Linked DNA regions of Homo sapiens. The protein of the gene in region 2 interacts with the protein of the main gene of each other region in a biochemical or structural test. Each region holds a gene or a part of one and is shown on either strand. Other genes may lie near its edges.

Region 1 (7,165 bases), on a different chromosome or scaffold from region 2:
ACATGCCCTAGTCCAGTGCTGTCCATTAGAGCTTTCTTTAATAATGGAAGTAGCCTGTATCTGCTGGTCAATAAGGTAACCAATAGTTACCAGGGGCTGTTGAGCACTTGAAATATGGATATTTTGACTGAACTGAATTTTTAATTTTACAACTAGCTGTGGTTACTAGTTACTGTATTTAGCAGCCATACTCAACAATCCTATAGGTCTATCTTAATTACTTTTATAGGAATGAAGAGTATTATAATTATTTCTCAATTATATATATTTGGTTTTAATTTCTACAGAGGAAGAGGACAACAAAGTTTTGTGAACTATTATTCATATAAGTTTGTAGTTGTTTAAGGAAAAGACTTCACAGAGAACAGGGCAGAGAGTAACACAATATCTGATTTCCAAAAAATTCAATCAAACTTTGATATGGATTTGGTCAAATCATTGTTTAATGGCCTCCTTAACATTATTATTAAACTGATTTATATAATTTGCTTTTTACTAATCAAATACATTGTTTTAAATCTTAATTATTTTTTATTATAAAAGTAATACACATTCAGTGTAACAAGTTCAAATAATCTCTCAGGTGGATAAAATACGGACATCCACCACACTGTACCTACCAAGATGCCCATACCCCAAAGATGATTGCTGTTAAACATTTAGAGTGCCTTTCCTGACTTTTTTGTCTAAGCACCTTTAAAAACCAATACTTTTGGTTTTCAGTGATAGCTCTGAATCCCCTTTAGGCATAGAGTGTGGGAAATTATATTTCTGCAGCAAACTCAGGCTCTGCAACATCAAGTGTGGATTCACTGGAAATTATTTGAAGTAACACTTAGAGATCATAGTAGCCAAAAAATGTTGGGAAATTAAAAAGGGGTTTTTAAAAATTAATTATCGTTATTATTATTTTTTTCAAAGAGACAGGGTCTTCACTCCATCACCCAGGATGGAGTTCAGTGGCGGAATTACAGCTCACTGAAGCCTCAAACTCCTGGGTGCAACCAATCCTCCTGCCTCAGCCTCCCAAGTAGCTTGGACTACAGGCATGCACCAACTGTGCCAGGCTAATTTTTTAATATTTTGTAGGGATAGGGTCTTGCTATGTTGCCCAGGCTGATCTCAAACTCCTGACCTCAAGCAATCCACGCACCTCAGCCTCCCATAGTGCTGGGATTACAGGAGTGAGCTCCCACACCCAGCTGAAAAAGGTTTTTGTGGAGGGAGTATGATCAGGAGAAAAATCATGGAATGTGCTCGAAAGAGATCTAAAGGGCCATGGAAGTCAAAAGGTTGAACTCCATAGAACAAAACATGAAGTATGGAAAGATTCTTTAAAAAACACTTGACTTTGGAACAAAATCCAAATTGTTCCCATGATTTCATTCTTTGACATTATGTTCATTTTGGTTATCTTAGTCTTTTCTCAGAATTCCTCTTTAACAGAGAATTATCTAAAAGCCCCTGGCTAAGTTAATGCTTATGACTATGGTCACAAATGGATGGCTTGGATTTTATTTGTTTTGCAGTGTTTGTAAATTTTTTTATGTATACTGTTGTTGTCAACTAACATAATCCGTATGTATATGGGTTATATATATATATATATATATTCCCCAAATTTAAAAACCAGTTTGGAGATTTTTCCCACACACAGAAAATCAGAAAATTGGCAATACTCTGCCCCATTACCACATGGCAACAATGTAGACAGGCCATGAGTTCTCCACATGGCCCTAATCCCCACCACTCTTAAACAAATCTAATCAGTTTTATGTATATTATATATGTATATTGCTGTGCTTCTCCTTCCTGCCTGACCCTGCAAGACCCCTGTCTCAGTCTCTCTCAACATGTCTGAAGGACTCGAGGGCAGGTGTCAAAGGTGAAGGCCCTCATCTGGATTTAATGTCCTGGACCTTGAAACAGCAGCTAGTGTTTTGAGCTCTAAGCTAACACTTTGGACTTTCTTTTTTTTTTCGAGATGGAGTCTTGCTCTGTCGCCCAGGCTGGAGTGCAGTGGCACCATCTCGGCTCACTGCAAGCTCCACCTCTCGGGTTCACGCCATTCTCCTGCCTCAGCCTCCTGAGTAGCTGGGACTACAGGCGCCCTCCACCACGCCTGGCTAATTTTTTGTATTTTTAGCAGAGATGGGGTTTCACCGTGTTAGCCAGGATGGTCTCGATCTCCTGACCTCGTGATCCGTCCGCCTTGGCCTCCCAAAGTGCTGGGATTACAGGCATGAACCACCGCGCCTGGCCACATTTTGGACTTTCAGTCATGTTTTCTTTCCCCAATGAAATAGAAAAGTTTTATTTCAAAGAGGAAAAGGGTGCAACAGCTGCAACATACATAAAACCTATTTAGTTTTACTTGGGAGTGGGAATCAGGAAACCTGGGTTCTGTTTTTGACTTAGTTTGGATAAAGAAGGGTAGTTAAGCTGTCCTTATGTCTCTTACCAAATGGAGAAAATACTGCTGTAGTTCACAGCAATTTGGGGAGTTTTAGATTCTATGGAAAATGGAAATCCTATTTGTAACTTAGATTTTTTCTTTGGAGAAGGAGTCTCGCTCTGTTGCCCAGGCTGGAGTGCAGTGGCACGATCTCGGCTCACTGCAACCTCCACCTTCCAGGTTCAAGCGATTCACTGACTCAGCCTCCTCAGTAGCTGGGATTACAGGCACGCGCCACCATGCCCAGCTAATGTTTGTATTTTTAGTAGAGACCAGGTTTTGCCATTTTGGCCAGGCTGGTCTCAAACTCCTGACCTCAAGTGATCTGCCCACCTTGGCCTCCCAAAGTGCTGGGATTACAGGCGTGAGCTACCGCTCCCGGTCTAATTTTTAAATTTTTGTTTTGTAGAGATGAGGGTCTCCCTTTGTTGCTCAAGCTGGTCTCTGTCTCTTGGGATCAAGGGATCCTCCTGCCTCAGCCTCCCAAAGTGCTGGGATTACAGGCCTGGGCCACTGCAACCTGGCCTTCATCACAAATTCATTGAACACACTTTCTTTATTTTATCCTTTTTTATTTTTAAAAATTTTTATTTCAGTAGTTTTGGAGGAACAGGTTGCATGGAAAAGTTCTTTAGTGGTCATTTCTGAGATTTTGGTGCACCCATCACCCGAGCAGTGTACACTGTACCATGTGGCACACACTTTCACTTAAAGCATTTACTAGACCTCGCTAGCCAGATTTCCCATCCCTGAGACACCTGGAATGTTCCTGAGGACTTAGTGACTACTGCCTAAAGCTCCACCCAAGTCAATTTTATGTTTACAGGCAACCGGAGCATCCAATCACCTTTCTCTAAGAGAGTACAAAGATCAGCTCGCGAGAAAGTTCAGACGTCTCATTTCGTTTCTATTACACGGGGCCTTCGCCCAACCAGACGGAGTCTTGCTCTGCTGCCCAGGCTGGAGTGCAGTAGCGCGATCTCGGCTCATTGCAACCTTCGCTCCCCGGGTTTAAGCAATTCTCCTGCCTCAGCCACTGGAGTAGCTAGGATTACAGGCGCACGCCACCACGCCAAGCTAATTTTTTGTATTCTTAATAGAGACGGGGGTTTCACCATGTTGGCCAGGCTGGTCTCGAACTCCTGACCTCATCATTTGCCCGCCTCGGCCTCCCAAAGCGCTGGGATTACAGGCGTGAGCCACCGTGCCCAGCCTCGCCGGGGCCTTTTAAGTGACGTTAAAAATTGTACATAAAATATGTTTTAGGATAATACTTGTTTTTCTTTGACCAAAGGCTTGGCTTCAGAGAATGTTTAGCCAGAAATAGAGGGGCGTTAAATCCCCTTTTTTCTAATTTCCAATCTGAGGAGGAAAATAACGTAGTAAAGGGACGCAAGAGCAACCTTGCTTCTTCCACAACAAGGCCCAGGCGCCGCCTTGCAACCCGGAAATGCAGGGTGCAGTGCGGGGGGTAAGGGACCGGCCAACTATGTTGACCCGACTCAGAGAAACCCCGCCCTTGCCGCCACCGCCCACCCATAACGTCCTCCTCGACCCTCCCTCGACCATCCCTCGCCCCGCGGCCCTCACCGAAAAGGGGAGGGCGGTGGAAGAGAGAGGAGTCAAGGGAGCGCACGCGAAGCCCCGCCCCTGCCGTGACGTCTGGAGACGCGACGCGTCGCCTCGCAATGCAAATCGGGAAAAGGGGGTGAGCTGGGCTGGCTTCCGTCCTGGTAGCCAAGGCTAATTCTCCCTCGAGTTCTTGGGAGATGGGCATTTGGCGAGAAGGCTGGCGTTAGTGAAGCGCGCCCGGCGTCACGGTGAGTGCGGGTCTTGGGCCCTAGCACCTGTTCTCTGGGAAGTCGTCCGCTGTGAACGATGAACGCCTTTCCTTCCACCAGCTGCTGGTTACCCCGGAGACAAGCTCTGTCCGCGGAGAGGAGTGGGACAACTCCTAAAGGTAGAATCAGCTTGTGGAGAGGAAAGGCCCAACCTTGAGTCTTTTACGCCATCTACCTAGGATTGCCAAGCGAGTTTCGTGTGTTTTTTTGGTTTTAAAAGGTGGCTTTGACCAATCTTCCGTTCTCTTGGACACTTATACCCGACTTTGACCTCTTTCCTCTTGCTTCCGGTTTTTTTTTTTTTCTGCAATCTGCCTACAATCCCAGGCCTTACTGTAGCTCCTAAAACTGTTTCCCAGTTTCTCTTCTTCCCCAGTCACACTTGATTTTAGTGAAGTTTGAGTTTAAAGACCCTATAAGCTTGTCAGAGTTAAAACTATGACTTCCTCAAATAGAAGATTTTTTTTTTTTCCCCTAAAAAGTGCCTTCCATCCTAGAGTTGTGGGACAAGTTAATTTCACCGCCACTCCACCTTGGAAATTATCAGAATCCTTACTAGCAGTGATGTGCATTATAAAGCTGCAGACCACCCTCCTGGGTTTATTTCTTGCCTCCAGTTCATTCTGTGACCTTGAACAAGTCACTTAATCACTAACAAAAAATTTACCTGACACGGAGGTGTTGCAGAGCCTAAGGAATTTAGTATTTGTTAAGAGACCTGAGGGTTTCAGATGAAAGGGATTTATATCTAAAGGATGTTACCTTTTCTGAATCTGCAAAGCATCGTTAGTTTTGTAAATATCTTGCTGCAGCCATTAAAAATGCCAAGTGGTATTTGTTAAGGAAGTATTCCTGTTTTAGGCTTGCTCTGCTGCGGCTTTGCTATGTAAGCAGATTTTTGCATTTCAGCCGATTCTGTTTAAGATTCGTTGGTGAATGTCATTCATGATGGATTTGGGTAGTTTCTCCTTACAGCATATCCCTGGACTATTAAGCATATCTGGAAGGTGATATCGGTTGTGTTATGTCTTTATCATGTTGATATGGCTGCTTTGAAATATGTATTCCTTTTCTTGTGACACATTGGATGCATCTTTAATATTAGTGAAGACCCTGTAGTAGTTTAAAAAAAAAATACACCTCTCATTAATGAAATTTTGCACATAGACATCTGTTTTTTTAAGAAAACAATGTATAAGAAAAACTAACAAAAATGTTTTAAAGGTGCCTTTTTTAGCATTTCGTTTTTTAATATATTTACTTGGACTTTAATCTTTATGGGCATTTGTTTATTAATGTGGACGTGGCTGGGCGCAGTGGCTCACATCTGTAATCCTAGCACTTTGGGAGGCGGAGGTGGGCGGATCACTGAGGTCAGGAGTTCGAGATCAGCCTGGCCAACATGGCGAAACCCGGTCTCTACTAAAAATACAAAATTAGCTGGGCGTGGTGGTGCACGCCTGTAGTCCCAGCTACTCTGGAGGCTGAGGCAGGAGAATCGCTTGAACCTGGAAAGCGAAGGTTGCAGTGAGCCGAGATTGCGTCATTGCACTCCAGCCTGGGTGACAAGAGCAAAACTCCGTCTCAAAAAATAAAAAATAAAAAGCGTGGACATAATGGAAAATAATCAAAATGACTTTTGGGTAAGACAGTTGGAAAATAAAGCCAGTACATTAAATTTTTTTCATAAGTCTAGCACTATATTACGAACTTTTCTCCATGAAAATGCACTCATATTTATGGAAGTGAAAGGAAAAAAATGTCTTCAGGTATGTGTTGCTAATAAAATTAGATATAATTAAGGAAACATTTAAAAAATACCTTGTTGTTGTCCCAGTTACCTATTGCTGCATAACAAATCACTCCAAAACATAGTGACTTAAAACTGTAATTTAGTATCTCTCCTGTTTCTCTGGCCTGCCTGGACTTAGCTAAGTGGTTTTCACCTAGAGTTTAATGCGTTTGTATTCAGATAAGCAGCTGAGTTTGGAGTCAACCGAGAGCTCAGCTGGTCTGGACATCCAAAATGGCTAATTCACGTGAAGGCGTTTGATGTTGGCTAGGAGTTCAGCTGGAAATGTCAACTGGAATGCCCACACATAGCCTCTTCACGTGACTTGAACAGTATGGCGGCTAGGTTCCGAGAATACATGTTTGAGGAGTCAGGAAGTAGAAGCTGCCAGTCTCCCAAAAAGCCTGAGCCCAGAAATTCGCACAACATTACTTCCAACATACTCTGTTGGTTAGAGCAAAGACCAGCGTACAACCCTCACCTTTGAAAGGAAAAATGTCAAAGAATTTGTGGCCGTGCTTTGCCTACTATAATTTTGATGACAAAGTTGTATTGGACTCTTGTTTGCATTTATATAGCAGATGAAGAATCAGGTACACTTCCAATTTCCAGTTTCTTTCTTTCTTCTTCTTCTTTTTTTTTTTTTGAGATGGAGTCTTGCTCTGTTGTCAGCCTGGAGTGCAGTGTACGATCTCAGCTCACTGCAACCTCTGCCTCCTGGGTTCACGCCATTCTCCTGCCTCAGCCTCCCGAGTAGCATGTCACCAAGCCCAGCTAATTTTTGTATTTTTAGTAGAGATGGGGTTTCACCATGTTGGCCAGGATGATCTTGATCTCTTGACCTGTGATCCACCTGCCTCAACCTCCGAAAGTGCTGGAATTACAGGCGTGAGCCACCGCGCCTGACCCATTTCCAATTTCTTTAACCGTAATACTTTATGTTGTAATGGCATATTACAGTTTTCAAAGCATGTTTTTGTATATTTTTTCACTTGATACCTATGGTCACCCTATAGAAGCAGACAAATAGTTCCTATTTCATTTTGCAGATGAAAGTAAACTGAAGAGTGGTGGTGG
Region 2 (7,093 bases):
AATCCTGGAAACACCCTTGAAGCCCCATGCTCCCCAGTTCGCAACCCGCTGCCACCCTCTCCTGGCCTTGCTGTGGCTGCCGGAAGAGTGGTGCTCACCCTGGACTGTGTCAGCCCCTTTTAGATGGGTTCTACAGCGGCCACGTGAGGATTGCAGCTAAAGAGAATCTGAAACGCAGCGGGCCCTTGGCCAGTAGGTCTCGCGGCTTGTTTTGTGGCAGTACTGAGGCAAATAGCTCAATAGCCCAATTCTCCTCTCCCTCTCATACCTTCCTTGTCTACCCTTCCGGATCTGTTCCTCAGGGAAGAGTGGCTCCTAATATATTTAGTCTCTGAAAATTAAATGTCCCAGGAGACTGTTCCGTTTAAAGGGAGTCTCTACGTTGACTCATAGCCAGAGTCAAAGACCCATGTGTTCCAGCTGAGCCCCAGGGTGTTGGGGGGGCCTAGCCCCAGGCATGCCTTCCAGACCCTCTTAGGGCCTTCTCTGCGGTTTTTGGGCCTCCTCTGCCTTGGGGTGAGCCCGATGGTTGTGGGTGTTCACCTCCCAGGCCCTTGTCTCCACAGGGAATCAGAACTTCGAGGAGTCCTCAGCCTATGGCAAGGCCATCCTGCCCCCGAGCCAGCCATGGGCCACGGAGTTGAGGAGCCACAGCACCCAGAGCGAGGCTGGGAGCCTGCCTGCCTTCACCGTGCCCCAGGCAGCTGCCCCGGGCAGCACCACCCCCAGTGCCACCAGCAGCAGCAGCAGCTGCTCCACGGTGAGCAGCCCTCTTATGGCGAGGACACAGAGAGGGCTCCGTATGTATGACTGCTGCCAGATGGCTGAAGGGACATTTGGGACAGGTACTGTCCTTCTCAGGTTATCACAGAGCCCCCTAGAGTGGCCGTGACACTTACCTACCAGGTATCAGAGCTGTTTTCTTCCTTTTAGTGTTCATCCCCCAACTCCATTGAAATAAGCTCCTTGAAGGGCTTTGAGCCCCCAGCTCAGTCCCCATACAGGGCAGTAACATCCCGTATGTGGCACAGAGCTGCACAGTTTGCACAGCCCTGCTGGCCACAGCCTGTATCCTGTTTGGTCCTCAAGACAGGACAACCTGTGAAGCGACAGTAGCCTCATTTTATGATGAGGAGACTGGAATTTAGAGAGGTTGATGAATTGACCTAATTCATACAGCTTGTTAATTAGCAGCCCCTCTACAAATAGTTGTGTGGTGGAATGGAATTGAACCTTTGGGTCCAGGAAGGTATTTCTTCTTCCATGCTGGACTTCTGGGGAGACCAGTGCCATATCTTTGACTCTGTCCCCCTCCTTCCTGGCCCCTAGCCCAATAGCCCTGAAGACTATTACACATCTTTGGATAACGACCTGAAGATTGAAGTGATTGAGAAGCTCTTCGCCATGGACACAGAGGCCAAGGACCAATGCAGTACCCAGGTAGATGGCTGTGGAGATCAGGCTAGGGTGTGTGCCTGCTGTCTGGTGGACAGCAAAGGCTCACATCCATTCTTGTAGCCTCATCCCTTTGTTGTAAAGAGCAGTGGAGACGTTTGGCCAAGGCCCAGGTCCCCTAAAGAGGTAGGGGTACAGGGTAATGGAGCCTGTGGTCACCCCCTCCTCCCACTGTCAAATCCAGCTCTTCCAGCATATGTGTCTCCTACTTAGATAGCTTTCTTAGCACACATGAAAACCGAAATGATACCACTGCACCTTTCTTTAAACAGGCCCTACATTTAACAAGCATAGCCAGATGTATAAAACATGTATAAACATAGGGGACAATTAATCCCTTTATAAACACATTCATCTTGTGATTTTAAAAAAATAATCATTTTTATATGAAATGCACTTTAAAATAAATAACATCTGTTTGACAATTTTTCATTTACATAAAACTTTTCAGGAACACATTTATTACATAAGGCCAATGTTCTTGCAAAAACTATGTAAACAAGGATAAGGTAGAGGGAGGGGTACGTGTTTTACAAAACCCCAGGGAAAACCATTAATCCCCCATTTGTCTTAGTCTTGAGTTCAACCAGATTTCTGCCTTGCCACTTAGTTTGTTTCTTGATCCTACTTGGCACAAATCCCAGCTACTCTGCAAAACATGCCCAATTTTAGCTTTTCTATCACCCTCCCTCCTCAGCACTCCTGTAGTATATATCATGTGGCACTTAATCACAGCTATCTGCTTCTGCTCCTTAAAGATTGCTTAGTATTGCAGTCATTAGTCAGCTGACACCCACTGAGGGTGTCAGTCTCTGAAGTTAGAAACTGTTTTCCGCATCTGCTTGTATTCCCCTGCTTGTATCATGCGTCCGTCATGATACTGCCACCCTAAGGGATGATCTGAGTATCTGCTGATTGGAACCAAAGTCTCTGTCCCTGGGGTCTGGCTGTTAGGCTGTTACTCTGCGAGAGTCCACAGATGGACCTGGGCACTTACTGCTTGCTTAGGCCCGTGCCAGCTTACAGGAGGGAGAAGAGGACAAAAAAAAGCCACAGTGTGCACCACAGGCCTAAGCATTGTAGGACAAGGATAACCACCACAGGCTGGAGTAGGCAGGGCTGACTCTGTGGAAGAGGGGCTGCCTCGGCTTCAAGAGAGAAGGCGGGCTCCGGACAGGTGGGATGGGGAGAGGAGAACATTTCTCAATGTGCAGGGTGAAGAGGGGATAAACATGGGGGAAGGCTGGTACATGATACAAGGTCGTGTACATGACACAGCCAAGTCTGAGGTTTTCCTGATAGGCCCTCGGGAGCCAGTGGAGGCGTTTGAGCAGCACTGTGAAACAGTGCTTGAGATGAATGGCTCTGCAGGAGCTGAGTTGGAATAGTGTTTGTGAGGTCGTACCAACCCCCTTGCCTCTTTGCCGGTGCTGTCTCCCCTCAGACGGATTTCAATGAGCTGGACTTGGAGACACTGGCACCCTATATCCCCATGGACGGGGAAGACTTCCAGCTAAGCCCCATCTGCCCCGAGGAGCGGCTCTTGGCGGAGAACCCACAGTCCACCCCCCAGCACTGCTTCAGTGCCATGACAAACATCTTCCAGCCACTGGCCCCTGTAGCCCCGCACAGTCCCTTCCTCCTGGACAAGTTTCAGCAGCAGCTGGAGAGCAAGAAGACAGAGCCCGAGCACCGGCCCATGTCCTCCATCTTCTTTGATGCCGGAAGCAAAGCATCCCTGCCACCGTGCTGTGGCCAGGCCAGCACCCCTCTCTCTTCCATGGGGGGCAGATCCAATACCCAGTGGCCCCCAGATCCACCATTACATTTTGGGCCCACAAAGTGGGCCGTCGGGGATCAGCGCACAGAGTTCTTGGGAGCAGCGCCGTTGGGGCCCCCTGTCTCTCCACCCCATGTCTCCACCTTCAAGACAAGGTAAGTGGCAGATACTCAGCTGTACCAGCAGGGCCGAACCGAGAGGCACCCACTAGTAAGATAGCTGGACCCCCAGGGAGGCCCCTGCCCCTCTCCCCAGCCATCTGATACCCCATTTAGCCCTTCTCTGAGCTCAGACTTTGGGGAATCACCTCAAGCCATGTGAGGCCTAGTGTAGGATGGGTTTTTATCTGGGCTGCCACTGAGGGCAGGCAAAGAAGTGGCTTGTTGAGAGCCCTGTACCTCAGTGTCTCCCTTCGGACCACCACCAGAGTGCCTTTCGTATCTCGGTTCATCATCTGAGCCACACAGAAAATTGAGTGATGATTTTCCCTGGTTGAAAACAGCAAAAAGATACCCCTGCCTCCCCTTGCCTTTTGGCTGCCCCCGGGTCCTCGCCACTGCAGCCTCTCCCAGCTGTGCCTAGGCTCCAGAAATGCCTTCCCATCTCCCCAGCATGCTCATTTCACCAGCTGCGAGCTCACTGGGCTAAGGCACAGGGGTTGGTACATGACCTGCCACTCCCAGGGGCCGCTGGTACTTGCCCTTTATAGAGCAGCCAAACTAGTTTTCAGTGGGAGCAAAAGGCAGAGGAGAGACATGGGCAGAAGAAACCCTCCTAAGGACTAACATTGCCCAGCCAGGCAGCCATCCCCCAGACCAGGAGGCTTGAGCCCTTCAGCATCTTATAGCTGAGGAAGGAGACAGAGCTCGAGCTCGGCCTGCAGGTGCACAGCCTGCCTCTGAGACTCTGCCTTTTGGGTCTTTGAGTCATCACAGGCATCAGCATTGGGACTGGAAGGGCCCCTAAGATGAGAAGGCACTGAGTGGCATGTGGCTCCAGACTCCCTCATAGCCTGCTCTCTCGGGCTTGGCAGGTCTGCAAAGGGTTTTGGGGCTCGAGGCCCAGACGTGCTGAGTCCGGCCATGGTAGCCCTCTCCAACAAGCTGAAGCTGAAGCGACAGCTGGAGTATGAAGAGCAAGCCTTCCAGGACCTGAGCGGGGTGAGTCATCCCCACTGGCCACAGGGGCCTCTCCATAGCCCTTAGGGAACCCAGGGCTGCTGAGAGGGGTGGGGATGTGGCCCTTCCAAGCCAGCATAGCCCTTAGGGAACCCAGGGCTGCTGAGAGGGGTGGGGATGTGGCCCTTCCAAGCCAGCAAGTGCCAGCCCTGTTCCAGGCCCACCCAACCCACCCAGTCTGGGGACCTGGTTCTCTGGCCATTTCCCCTTTCCATCTGCCCTTCTTACTCCCAGGGGGACCCACCTGGTGGCAGCACCTCACATTTGATGTGGAAACGGATGAAGAACCTCAGGGGTGGGAGCTGCCCTTTGATGCCGGACAAGCCACTGAGCGCAAATGTACCCAATGGTGAGCAGCGGCCACAGGCCTGGGCCTCCTGGGGGTTCTGGTGGAAGGACTGGGGCTCGGGAGCCCATCCTGGTTCTTCCATTCACCACAGGCCGTACCTGCCTCTCTGAGCCTTGTTAGAATGGGGCGATGTCCTCTGTCTCTCCCGCAGTCCCACACACCCAACTTTTCCATCTCCACTCTGACTTAGATGATGCCATCAGAGGGTCCTGAAGGTTGGCTGTAGTTCTGGTGACTCTGAGCACCTTTTATAAAGGAAAGGGATGCTAGGGCTTCCTGGCCTCTCCCCTCCCTCAGGCCAATGCTACCGTCACTCTCTGACTTTGGTCTTTCAGATAAGTTCACCCAAAACCCCATGAGGGGCCTGGGCCATCCCCTGAGACATCTGCCGCTGCCACAGCCTCCATCTGCCATCAGTCCCGGGGAGAACAGCAAGAGCAGGTTCCCCCCACAGTGCTACGCCACCCAGTACCAGGACTACAGCCTGTCGTCAGCCCACAAGGTGTCAGGTGGGTGTGCCCAGGATCTGTCACCCCCATCCCAGGATTCGATGCCAGGGGAAGCCCACGTCTACTTTTTTTCCAGCGTCTGCACAGTGCCAGGCACAGGGAGGTGCTTGACTTGAAGTCACCTATACAGGGCTCAGGTCTCCTTGGATTTAGGGAACCTCCTCACAAGTTCCTTGTGACATCAGTGATCAGGCCCCCCAGTGGGTGGGTCTGAGACACAGCTAAAAAACTCAAACTCAGGCTAGAATACTGAAGGAAAGAATGCAGACCACTACCGACTGCCCAAAGAGGACTGAACACTGAACACTGGGTTGGCGACCCCCAGAACACTGTACCACTGTTGACAGGAGCACTTTCAGAAGAAAGAGCAGGCGGCCACAGTGGTGAGGGCCTGTTGAAGAAGAGAAGAGAAAGTTCAGAGAGAGAGAGTTGGGAAGCGGTCTGGGCAGAGGCAGGGGATCTCCCGTCTATGCAAGGATGAGCTTGCTGCGTGGAGAAGGGAGTGCTCCTTCCCTGGGGCTTTAGGGAGAACCCTCCCATGATCAGGTGCCATCCAGGGCTCTTTCCACCCTGAGAATCCCGGAGCCTTGCCCCTTCCTCAGTTCTTCATGTGGATGTGTTTTGGGGTGTCACTCTGAGTTCAGGCAGGTGCTGAGAACATGCCAAAACTTCCTTCAGGTAGAACAGCCTGGAAAGCTCTGGTAGGCCCACCCCACTGGACTTGGTTCAACTGCAGGCACCAATGCCTGCCTTCAACCCTGGGCCACCTTCATCTTGACAGTATCTTGTGAAACATATATGTCTTCATGAGGTTTGTTTGGCCTGAAAATAATTCGTGGTTTATGGAAAAACATACCAGGCCCCTGTTCTAAAAGGCAATTTCCTCAGCAATAGAGTTTGGGGAAGGTTATAGTTCTGTGCTTCAGAGTCCAGGCTGTAGAAACACCAGACAGCCCTGGCTTAAATTCTGGCTCTGCTGTTGAGTTCAGGGGCTGGTATATATTTATGTGCAGTAAGAGGTAGCCAGCACTATTCTTCCTGTTATGTGAAGCCCACGAATTACCTTGAATATTGAAATCAAGGGAAAATCATATTCTTTTCAAAAGAGTTGAATCATATCAAACTCTTTTCTGACCATGAATAAGAGAAGTTAGCAAGGGATGGTGAGCAGGTATCCATTGATACTGTCCACAGGAGCAGTCAAGCTGGGGAGGCAGGCATGGACCCCAGCAAGGATCTGAGCTAGGAGGTGCAGGAGGCAATGGCCACTGGAACGAGGCTCTGCAGATAAGGGAAGGTGGGTGGGCATCTCCCATCGGAGGGGCAGAATGCAGGGCTTCCAGGCTCTCTGCTGCCACCTAAGCCTTTCCTCCTTGGGATGGGGGCCTGTGTGTGTGCTGCGAGTGTCCCCCCTGCCACTCCCTGGTCTGCCTCCTCGGCAAGAGAATAGCACAGAGGCAAGAAGAAAGGACTGCTGAGGGTGGTGACCAGAAACTGGATTTTCAGACTGTTGAATCTTGAGGCAGTCTGTGTTTGCATCTGTATGTATGTGTGTGTTCTGCATGTTCTGTGTATGTGAGCATAGGTGCCAGGTGGTTCAGCCTTTCCTCCCTGCTGCCAGGAGGCATGGGGGTCAGCAACCCCAGGCTCTTCCTGAAGCTTCCACATACCTGTGCTGCAGCCCGCACCTCACGCTTTCCTCTTTCTTGGGTCTCAGCACCCCACCTGAGGCAGTGGTTCTGGAGGCAGACACGTTCCCCGGGCATGCAGCAGGCCGTGGGACAGACACCACTGAAGGAGCAGAGTGAAATTAGGGCTGCTC

The links. Proteins that work in one complex are often made in the same cells at the same time.
Region 1: the proteins of EPAS1 (region 2) and USP8 form a complex in vitro, tested with the Homo sapiens proteins (one study listed by IntAct).

The regions. Positions count from the first base shown.
Region 1 is NC_000015.10:50,420,240-50,427,404, forward strand, and holds the start of USP8 (ubiquitin carboxyl-terminal hydrolase 8), read left to right. Parts: upstream 1-4,165; 5' UTR 4,166-4,275; exon of another isoform or gene 4,276-4,415; intron 4,416-7,165. UniProt on the Homo sapiens protein: Hydrolase that can remove conjugated ubiquitin from proteins and therefore plays an important regulatory role at the level of protein turnover by preventing degradation. Converts both 'Lys-48' an 'Lys-63'-linked ubiquitin chains.
Region 2 is NC_000002.12:46,377,328-46,384,420, forward strand, and holds part of EPAS1 (endothelial PAS domain-containing protein 1), read left to right. Parts: intron 1-566; coding exon 567-760; intron 761-1,329; coding exon 1,330-1,440; intron 1,441-2,899; coding exon 2,900-3,390; intron 3,391-4,268; coding exon 4,269-4,395; intron 4,396-4,647; coding exon 4,648-4,762; intron 4,763-5,097; coding exon 5,098-5,271; intron 5,272-7,093.